2 separate regions of the Homo sapiens genome follow, and region 1 is linked to region 2. Evidence: fine-mapped expression QTL. A gene starts in region 2. The other region holds a variant in brackets. All regions are shown on one strand. Distances are from middle to middle. Region 1 overlaps SGK2 (serum/glucocorticoid regulated kinase 2). Region 2 holds the start of MYBL2 (MYB proto-oncogene like 2).

The links. PIP is the estimated chance that this variant, and not a neighbour inherited with it, causes the effect.
Region 1: its variant is the best candidate, but not a certain one, in a credible set for the expression of MYBL2 in whole blood (INTERVAL, PIP 0.73).

What each region holds. Positions count from the first base shown.
Region 1 is chr20:43,580,073-43,585,585 of GRCh38, forward strand. It overlaps SGK2 (serum/glucocorticoid regulated kinase 2), which reads left to right. Exons shown (of 13, transcript NM_170693.3): 13 at 4,780-5,513. The coding sequence ends at 4,944. Among named protein-coding and RNA genes, the nearest start is that of IFT52, 8.1 kb to the right of the region's middle. The variant G/T (reference allele first, on the strand shown) is at 2,365.
Region 2 is chr20:43,664,663-43,669,662 of GRCh38, forward strand. It overlaps MYBL2 (MYB proto-oncogene like 2), which reads left to right and starts at 2,452. Exons shown (of 14, transcript NM_002466.4): 1 at 2,452-2,641. The coding sequence starts at 2,622. RefSeq lists silencers at 2,247-2,541, 2,278-2,657 and enhancers at 2,247-2,541, 3,308-3,357.

The sequences.
Region 1 (5,513 bases), 84 kb before region 2:
CAGCATTCTAGACTCTGGATTTCCGGGGCTGGGGGAGCTTGCTATGCTTGCCAACTCTCCTTATCTAGATGGAAAACTTGGGGGTCCAAGAAGCTCAGTCATTTGTCCTAGGCTACACAGTCAGTTAGAGACAGAACTGGGCCTGACTACAGGTGCAGCTCTTGGATAAACAGCCATGTTGCTGCTCCTTTGTCTTGAGCACCAATAAATAACTCTGGCTGCAGAGACTTTTACAGTTTGTGAAGTGCTCTGTTTCGCACAGCACACCCACATAGGGCCAAGCCCTTTAGAGATATTTTATCCTTTTCTATTTATAGACTTTTTCCTGATAATAAAAATGACATATATCCTTATAAAAAGTATGTAAAACACTGGCCAGGCACAGTGGCTCACGACTGTAGTATCAGCACTTTGGGAGGCTGAGGCGGGTAGATCACTTGAGGTCAGGAGTTTAAGACCAGTGTAGCCAACATAGTGAAACCCCATCTTTACTAAAAATACAAAAATTAGCCAGACATGGTGGTGCACACCTGTAATCCCTGCTACTCGGGAGGCTGAGGTGGGAGAATAGCTTGAACCTGGGAGGCAAGGGTCACAGTGAGCCAAGATCATGCCATTGCACTCCAGCGTAGGCAACAGAGGGAGACTTCATCTCAAAAAAAAAAAAAAAAAAAAAGGGAATGTATGTAAAACAGAAAAGTTTAAAGTAGCAGTGGCGAAATGCTTATTATCTCACTACTTAAGGGAAACCACTGGCATATTTCCTTCCAGTCACTTTTCTATGTGTTTTTTTTTGTTTGTTTTGTTTTGTTTTTTTTCTTGAGATGGAGTCTCACTCTGTTGCCCAGGCTGGAGTGCAGTGGCACAATCTCGGCTCACTGTAAGCTCTGCCTCCTGGGTTCATGCCATTCTTCTGCCTCAGCCTCCTGAGTAGCTGGGACTACAGGCGCCCACCACCATGCCCGGCTAATTTTTTGTATTTTTAGCAGAGATGGGGTTTCACCATGTTAGCCAGGATGGTCTCGATCTCCTGACCTCGTGATCCGCCCGCCTCGGCCTCCCAAAGTGCTGGGATTACAGGCGTGAGCCACCGTGCCTGGCCTGTTTTGTTTTGTTTTTAACCTAATTAGGTCCTACTTTATAGTATCTATATGTGTGTGTGTGTTTATTCATCTATATTATCTTCCTCCTTTTTTGGCTAAAAACTATGTTATAATTTCCTCATGTCATAAAAAATTTTATAAATACAATTTTTAGTGGCTGCATAATATTTCCATCTTATGTTGGTAACATAATTTACTTACCCATGTTCCTAATGGCAATCTTATGGTTGTTACTATGTTTTTTCTTTATCATGATGTGCTGATGAACAGCTTTAAGTATATGTCTTTGCCCAGAATTCTGGTCATTTCTTTAAGATGGATTCCATATGGGGAATTCCCAATGCTAATGTTTTTTAGATTCTTTTTTTATTTTTATTTTATTTATTTATTTTTTTGAGACAGAGTCTCGTTCGATCGCCCATGTTGGAGTGCAGTGGCACGATCTCAGGTTCAAGCAATTCTCATGTCTCAGCCTCCCGAGTAGCTGTGATTATAGGCATGCGCCACCACGCCTGGCTAATTTTTGCATTTTCAGTAGAAACGGGGTTTCACCATATTGGCCAGGCTGGTCTCGAACTCCTGGCCCCGAGTGATCCACTCGCCTTGGCCTCCCAAAGTGCTGGGATTACAGGCGTGAGCCACCGCACCTGGCCATTTTTAGGTTGTTGATTCACACCACCTTTTCACTGTGTGGAAGGGAGAACCATCTACTTCCTACCAGCGGCACTTGCTGGAGAGTTCTCATCTTGCTTGCACTCTGAAGCATGTGTGGTTATTGTTTTTTACTTTGCAAATTTGGTAAGTAAAAAACAGCATCTCTTAATTGTTTTAATTTATATTTCTTTGTCTTATAGTAAAGATGGTTAGTTTTTTAAATTTATTTATTTTTTGAGACAGGGTCTCACTCTATCACCCAGGCTGATGTGCAGTGGCATGATCTCTGCCTATTGCAACCTCCACCTCCTGGGGTCAAGCCATCCTCCTACCTCAGCCTCCTGAGTACCTCAGCCTCCTGAGTAGTTGGGAGGTGGGTGCCACCACACCTAGCTAATTTGTATTTTTTGTACAGATGATGTTTTTCTATGTAGCCCAGGCTGATCTTGAACTCCTGGGCTCAAGTGATCCACCCCCTCAGCTTCCCAAAGTGCTGGGATAACAGGTGTGAGCCACCACACCTGGCCAGTTTTTATTTTCATTTTTATTTTTATTTTTATTTTATTTTATTTTATTGAGGTGGAGTCTCACTTTGTTGCCCAGGCTG[G/T]AGTGCAGTGGCACGATCTCAGCTCATGGCAACCTCTGTCTTCTTGGTTCAAGCAATTCTCCTGCCTCAGCCTCCCGAGTGGCTGGGACTACAGGCATATGCCACCACACCTGGCTAATTTTTGTATTTTTAGTAGAGATGGGGTTTTACTATGTTGGCCAGGCTGGTCTTGAACTCCTGACCTCAAGTGATCTACCCACCACAGCCTCCCAAAGTGCTGGGATTACAGGCATGAGCCATCGCGCCTGGCTTTTATTTTTATATTTTTGAGATAGAGTCTTGCTCTGTTGCCCAGGCTGGAGTGCAGTGGCACGATCTCAGCTCACTGCAACCTCTGCCTCTCCAGGTTCAAGCAATTCTCATGCCCCAGCCTCCCGAGTAGCTGGGACTACAGGCGCTCAGCACCATGCTTGGCTAATTTTTTTGTTGTTGTATTTTTAGTAGAGACGGAATTTCACCATGTTGGCCAGGCTGGTCTTGAACTCCTGACCTCAAGTGATCTGCCTGCCTTGGCCTCCCAAAGTGCTAGTTTTGCAATGTTAATTGGTAGTGGCAGTGTGAATGAAAGGAGTCCTATTGGAGGTGGGCGTGTGAAGCTGTGTGGTCTACCTGTAAAGCATGGTGCCAAGCCCCTTCCATCGAAACAGCCTGCATATCAAACACTGCCAATGTTAATTCACCATTTACATTTCTCATTTGTTTAATTACCTATTCATGAACTTGTCTTTGGGCACTGGATCAGATAGGATACACTCGGGCCAGGCACCAGAAAAGCTTCTTTTCGTTGGGATTTTAAAAAGACAGTGAAGATAATGTCGAACTTATACCCTGGAGAGAGAACCATACATGGAATACTAGGCAGAGATGAATGGACTTTAGAATGAGACACTCCGGAGCTGGATTCCTGGTTTTGTCACCTACCATTTGTGAGGTCTTCAGTAAGTCTCTTTAGTATCATTTTCTTCTACAGTCACACAACTAATAAGGGCCAGGATGCACATTCTGATCTTGGAACTCTGAGTGCTGGGCTGGGACTACCTTGTCTTGTAGCCTTATTGAGAAGCTAGAAACTGTGATCTGTTTGGCTCCATAGCCCGACTTGCACACTAAAGCAGATTTGCAAGCCCTTCCCCTTCCTCACCTGCTTACTTCATAAAACCCAGGCCTCCTCCACAGAGAGACTGTATTGGTTAGCTCTTGGTGTATAACAAGCAACTCCAAAGCTAGGTGGCTTAAAACAACAATCTTTTGGCTGGGCATGGTAGTTCATATCTGTAACCCCAGCACTTTATGAGGCCGAGCTATTAGCATTGCTTGAGGCCAGGAGTTCAAGACCAGCCTGGTCAACATGGCGAGACCCCCATCTTTATAGAAAAATAGAAAATTAGCCAGGTGTGGTGCTGCATGCCCAGCTACTCAGGAGGCTGAGGTGGGAGGCTCGCTTGAGCCTGGGATGTCGAAGCTATAGTGAGCTGTGATCATGCCAGTGCACTCCAGCCTGGGTGATGGGCAAAAAAGACCTTGTCTCTTAAAAAAAATTATTTTGTTCGGATTCTATGTGTTTTTTTTTAAGTCTGAGTCAGGCCAGCTGGTCTCTGTGGAGCTCTCTCATATCTGTGGTCAGCTAGCGGGACAGTTGGCAGTTGTTGATCTAGAATTGCCTCACTCCCATGCCTGGGAGTTGGCAGGCAGCCAGGGCAACTGAGTTCTTCATGAGCCTCTCATGCTCCAGCAGGCTAGTCTGGGGCTGTTCACATGGTGGCATCAGGGTTAGAAGTACAGCAAGAGAGCAACTCCTGATGTGCAATTTTCAAGCCTCTGCTTGTGTCATATTTGGTAATGTCCCATTGGCCTAACCAAGTCATATGGCTAACTTACATTAAAGGAATGGAGAAATAGACTCCACCTCTAGATGGGAAATGGAGAATTTGTGAACATTTTTGTAATCTCCCTCACAGGTCTTCCTCCAAAATAGCTAAAGCAGCCCCAGTCAATCTCCACCATATCACCCTATTTTCTCTTCTTCATAGGACCTATCACCATCCTAAGTTACCTATTTGTACATATGCTTATTATCAATCCTCCTACCCCCCACACAATGTAAGCTCCATGAATGCAGGGGCTCACTTTATCTTGTTCTCCTGTGTTCCCAGCGCCACGAACAGTACCTGGTAGGCATTCAGTAAGTGTTATGTTGATTAACTGACTTGCCTGACGATTGGTGTGGAGGCAGAATACCAGGGGGTGAGAGGAATCAAATGATCAATGTAAATGCACAGGAAAGTGACAGTCAAGTATGGATGACTGTGAAGCATGGGGCACTCACAGAGGCCTGACATCCCTCTCTGAGGATCTGGGCTCCTTTGGCAGCTCTGACCCCGGTGTTTTCTTCTCATCATTGGCTTTTATTGACAGACAGGACCTGCTGACTTGAAGCATTTTGACCCAGAGTTCACCCAGGAAGCTGTGTCCAAGTCCATTGGCTGTACCCCTGACACTGTGGCCAGCAGCTCTGGGGCCTCAAGTGCATTCCTGGGATTTTCTTATGCGCCAGAGGATGATGACATCTTGGATTGCTAGAAGAGAAGGACCTGTGAAACTACTGAGGCCAGCTGGTATTAGTAAGGAATTACCTTCAGCTGCTAGGAAGAGCGACTCAAACTAACAATGGCTTCAACGAGAAGCAGGTTTATTTTTTCCAGCACATAAAAGAAAAATAATGTTTCGGAGTCCAGGACTGGCAGGACAGGTCATCAGATACTCAGAGGCTGTATCTCTGCCCTGCCAACCTTGACAAATGGCTTCCAATGTTAGGTTTGCTACAAGATGGTTACTGGAGCTCTAGCTGCCTATTTTGTGTTTAGGGAAGGGAAAATGGAGGAAAGGGGAGAAGAGCAAAGGGCGCTTTTAAAGAGCTTTCCCAAAAGCTCCACCCAATGACTTCTGCTTCCATCTCACTAACCACCCACCCCTACCTGGAATGGAGGCTGGGAGATGTGGCTTATTTGCTGGGTACGTGACTATCCCTAATAACAAAGGGGTTCTGACACTAAGACATTAGGGGAGAATGTTGGGTAGGCAGCCAGCACTCTTTTACCAGAGGGCCTCCTGGTGTTTGGATTTTGATCTCAATGTGTAAAATGACAGAG
Region 2 (5,000 bases):
GAGTCTGAGTCGGGTAGATCACCTGAGGTCAGAAGTTCAAGACCAGCCTGGCCAACATGATGAAAACCCATCTCTACAAAAATACAAAAAATAGCCAGGCATGCTGGCGCATTCCTGTAGTCCTAGCTACTCGAGAGGCTGAGGTGGGAGAATCATTTGAATCCGGGAAGTGGGGGTTGCAGTGAGCCAAGATCACACCACTGCACTCCAGTCTGGGCAATAAAGCAAGACTTGGTCTAAAAAAAAAAAAAAAGTTAAGTAATTTGCCTAAGATACCGCAACTGAATGGTGGAGCTGGGACTCAAACCCCAGGAAGTTTGGCTGTGGAGGCTGTGCTTTCAATGAAGTGGGCATGTCCACATTAATTACTTTATAAGGGGAGTGGGCGGGAGAAACCCTGAATTAAGTGATGTGGAAGCTTCTAGCACTTAAGATGTGAGTTAGTCTTCCTTCTGTGGTAAGTGAAGTTTGCAGCAGCTGGTGGCTGGACTGTCCCCAGGTGGCCAGCAGCTTCTGGAAGGGGGCTCTGAGGCCTGAACAGGGGCTAAAAGGCTGGGGTTTGATTTGGTTTCTTCAGCGTCCTGTCTCAGAGCTCATTTATCTTCCTCTCAGCACTGCTCCCAGGAAGTCCAGTGTGACTTGATCCTTGGTACTTGGTAAATGTCAATCTAATATAGAAAACCTTTGCTAAATCTCAAGGAAAGACAGTCTCACTGTCTGTCGCCCAGGCTGGAGTGCAGTGGCGGGATGACAAGGGCTTGAGCCCCTCGAACTCCTGGGCTCAAGCAATCCTCCTGCCTCTGCTTCCCAAGTAGCTGGGATTACAGGCATTCACCACCACAGCCAGGTAATTTCTTAATTTTTTGTAAAGACAGGGTCTCACTCTGATCCCCAGGCTGGTCTCAAACTTTTGGACTGAATCAGTTCTCCCACCTCGGCCTCCCAAACTGCTAGGATTACTGGCATGAGCCACTAAATCTGGGCTAATCTCTGGGAGTTTAAACCCAAGGTAAACAATTCAATGCAACAAACCTTTGCCTGGGGCTTCTTATGTCAGGTCTTCTACTGGGCCCTGGAGATACTGGTGTGCATTGAGAGGCCACCTGGACCTCAGGATGCTCCCAGTTCAAAGGGGGAAATGCAGAAGTCTACAGGCAGATTGTGGGCAGTGGACCCCAAATTAAATAGGAATCAGCCACGTGGGAGGGGCAGGAAGTGTTCCTGCCCTGGGTAATGGCTCAGGCAAAGGCAAAGAGGCCGTTTCTTTTGGCCAGGGCTGGGTGGTGGTCTGGAAGATCAGATAAATGTGATTGTGGAGTAAGGAATTTACCCTGAGGGAGAGGAGGATGGTTTTAAATTCTGGAAAGAGCTCACGCCTGCAATCCCAGCACTTTGGGAGGACAAAGCGGCAGGATCTCTTGAGCCCAGGAGTTTCTAGACCAGTCTAGGCAACAGCAACATAGCAAGACACCCCCTTCTCTTAAAAAAAAAAAAAAAAGCGCAGTGGCTCACTCCTGTAATTCCAGCACTTTGGGAGGCCGAGGCGGGCGGATCACGAGGTCAGGAGACCTATACCATCCTGGCCAACATGGTGAAACCTCGTCTCTACTAAAATACTAAAAAAAAAAAAAAAAAAAAAAAAAAATTGCCGGGCGTGGTGGTGTGCGCCTGTAGTTCCAGCTACTTGGGAGGCTGAGGCGGGGGAGTCGCTTGAACCCGGGAGGTGGAGGTTGCAGTGAGTCAAGATCGCGCCACTGCACTCCAGCCTGGCGACAAAGCGAGACACCGTCTCAAAAAAAAAAAAAAAAAAAATCAGCCGGGTGTAGTGGCGAGTGCCTGGTCTTAGCTACCCGTGAGTTGAGGTAGGAGGATCGCTTGAGCCTAGGAGGTGGAGGTTGCAGTGAGCTATGATCGCGAAACTGCACTCCAGCCTGGGCGACAGAGCAAGACCCTGCCTCTAAGAAAAATGAACAACAAAAAATAAAGTCTATTAAGGAGGGTCTCTTGGAGGCAGGAGAGGAAGCAGGGAGAGGCACAGGTAGGGTGAGGAGCCGCTTTAGGGTGCGGCTCTAGGGACCCAGTAGTGGCTTGGACTAGCGTGGGGGATTCCGCCCTGGCGCTTTCCCTGGCTGGCTCTCCCATGCTCGCGCCTCGCTCCCCTTCCTCGGTCTTCGCTATGTGGGATACTCCTGGGCCGCCCCGGACTGACACGTGAGCCAGGCCTCGGTCACATCCCGGCCCGCTCCACAACTCCGAAGTAGCGGCCGCCGCCCCTGTCCTGCAGCCGGCCCTGGAGGGTCTGGGCAGGTGCCGCCCCGCAGGCCCCGCCCCGCCCCGCCCCCTGGCTCCGCCCCTCACTCAGGCCCCTCCCCCGGCGCCCGCGCGCCAGGACTGGGCGGCGCCGACGCGCTTGGCGGGAGATAGAAAAGTGCTTCAACCCGCGCCGGCGGCGACTGCAGTTCCTGCGAGCGAGGAGCGCGGGACCTGCTGACACGCTGACGCCTTCGAGCGCGGCCCGGGGCCCGGAGCGGCCGGAGCAGCCCGGGTCCTGACCCCGGCCCGGCTCCCGCTCCGGGCTCTGCCGGCGGGCGGGCGAGCGCGGCGCGGTCCGGGCCGGGGGGATGTCTCGGCGGACGCGCTGGTGAGACGAGCCGGGAGGGCTTGGGCCCCTCCCCCTCCCTTTAACTCACCCCTCCCCCACCCAGATACCCCCGACCCTCCCCAGGCTCCCACCAAGCTGGGGTGTGTGTGTGTGTTGGGGGTGGGGTGTTTCCGCGGAAATGCTGCGTCCTGGGCCCTCTGAGGCAGGGGCGCGCGTAAAGCTGGGGGGCTCTTGGGCGTCCCTCGCGGCTCCCCAGGCCTGTTGGGCCTCGGAGCTGGGACGGGCGGGTCTCTTGGGACCCGGGCCAAGCCGTGCATGATGTCATTTTGTCTCCCGCCTAATTGCGGGATGGGGGTGGGCCGGCCGGTGTCAGCTGGCAGGGCCTTCGCCGGCGAGGGAGGCGACCCCTGGGAGCGAGAGGGAGTCTTCAAGTCCCAGCCAGTGGGAGACCGAGCCTGGGAGGCACTTGTTGCAGCCTAGTTTTGGGTCAACTTGGTGGGTGGGCTTTGCTCCTTAACATTCCGGGGAGCACAGAGTCCCCCAAGCCCTCTCCCCTGGACTGAGAAGGGTGCTGAGTTGGGGGCTCTTTTGTCTCTCCCACCTGGGTTCCGCGCCCCAGCTTGGTTCGGTTTGAGACCTCTCTTCCTGTTCCCACGAGGAGTTTTGGGCAGCTGGGGTTGAAGGTGCGGGGGAGAGAGAGAGTCCCTGGGGCAAAGGCAGGAACTGCGGTCTCCATTTTACTTATTTCCCCAGAGACTTAAGTGGCAGAGCTGAGCCCGGAGCCAGGTCTGTGGCTCCAGATCCCTGTCTTACACCTGTGCGCCTGGGGCCTGAGCTCCAAGCTTTTCAGCCTGCCTGGGAGACAGGACAGTGGGGTCCTGACCTCTTCCCTGCCTGGATCGCTGCAGCTCAGATAACCTTCGTTCCCTCTTTTTTTTTTTTTTTTTTTTTTTTGAGAAGGAGTCTCGCTCTGATGCCCAGGCTGGAGTGCAGTGGCGCGATCTTGGCTCACTGCAACCTCCGCCTCCCAGGTTCAAGCGATTCTCCTGCCTCAGCTTCCCGAGTAGCTGGGACTTCAGGCACGTGTCACCACGTCGGGCTAATTTTTTGTATGTTTAGTAGAGACAGGGTTTCACCATGTTAGCCAGGATGGTCTCGATCTCCTGACCTTGTGTTCCGCCCGACTCGGCCTCCCAAAGTGCTGGGATTACAGGCGTGAGCCACCTTGCCCGGCCAAACTTCGGTCCCTCTTTAGACGATAGCCTCATCTAAAGATGAAGCCTTCCATCCCTCTAGATTTTTGCCCTTTCAGGCTGAGGATAGGGATCTGAGCACAGGGACTGTGTTCCTCAGGCCCCACTTTCCCAGGCCAATGTCCAGGAAGAGTTTTCTGTTCAGGCGCCTATCAGACCCTGCCCTGGTTTTTTTTTTTTTTTTTTTTGAGGCAGGGTCTCCGTCTGCAGTCCAGGCCGGAGTGCTGTGGTGCTGTCATAGCTCACTGTAGCCCCAACCTCCCAGGTTCAAGTGATCTTCCCAACTCAGCCCGCTGGGACTGCAGGCTGAGTAGCTGGGACTATGGGCACGGGCCGCCACAACTGGCTAATTTATTTAATTATTTAGGAGACAGAGCCACTCTGTGTTGCCCAGGCTGGAGTGCAGTGGCACAATCTCGGCTCACTGCAGCCTCTGCCTCCCGGGTTCAAGGAATTCTGTCTCAGCCTCCCAAGTACCTGGGACTATGGGCACACGCCGCCACGCCTGGCTAATTTTTTGGATTTTTAGTAGAGATGGGTTTCACTGTGTTGCTCAGGCAATCCGCCTGCCTTGGCCTCACAGAGTGCTAGGATTACAGGCGTGAGCCACCGCGTCTGGCGTGTTTTATTTTGTGTAGAGATGGAAGGGGGCGGGAGTGGCCTCGCGTTGTGTCTCACCTCACTATGTTACCCAGGCTGGTCTCGAACTCCTGGCTTCCAGGGATTCTCCCCCACTTGGCCTCCCAAAGTGTCGGGATTACAGGTGTGAGCCACCTTGCCTGGCGCCATCCTGATTTTTTGTTCAGGAAGAGTTATTCCAGGAGTGACTGCCTCTAGACCACCCCAGGTCCTGGGCTACTTCTCCCATGAGGGGCTCAGTGGAGGAACCCCTCCTGTGTGAAGGATGGCAGCTCCACAGCCCTCAGCCCATTTCCTGGCCACTTGCTGTAACTCTCCTCTGCCCTAGTGCCCCACTTCCCGCTTTGTCTCTGACTCACCCCTGTCCTGGAGCAGAGCCCAGCACGTTGAAGGGCAAAAGGTAGGGTATGTTGGACCACAATGTGGTTGCCACCACTAACTGGACTCTGCTTTTTCAGCTGGGATTAGGATATGAGGACTTGCAGGTGTCTGGAGTTAGGAAGGTT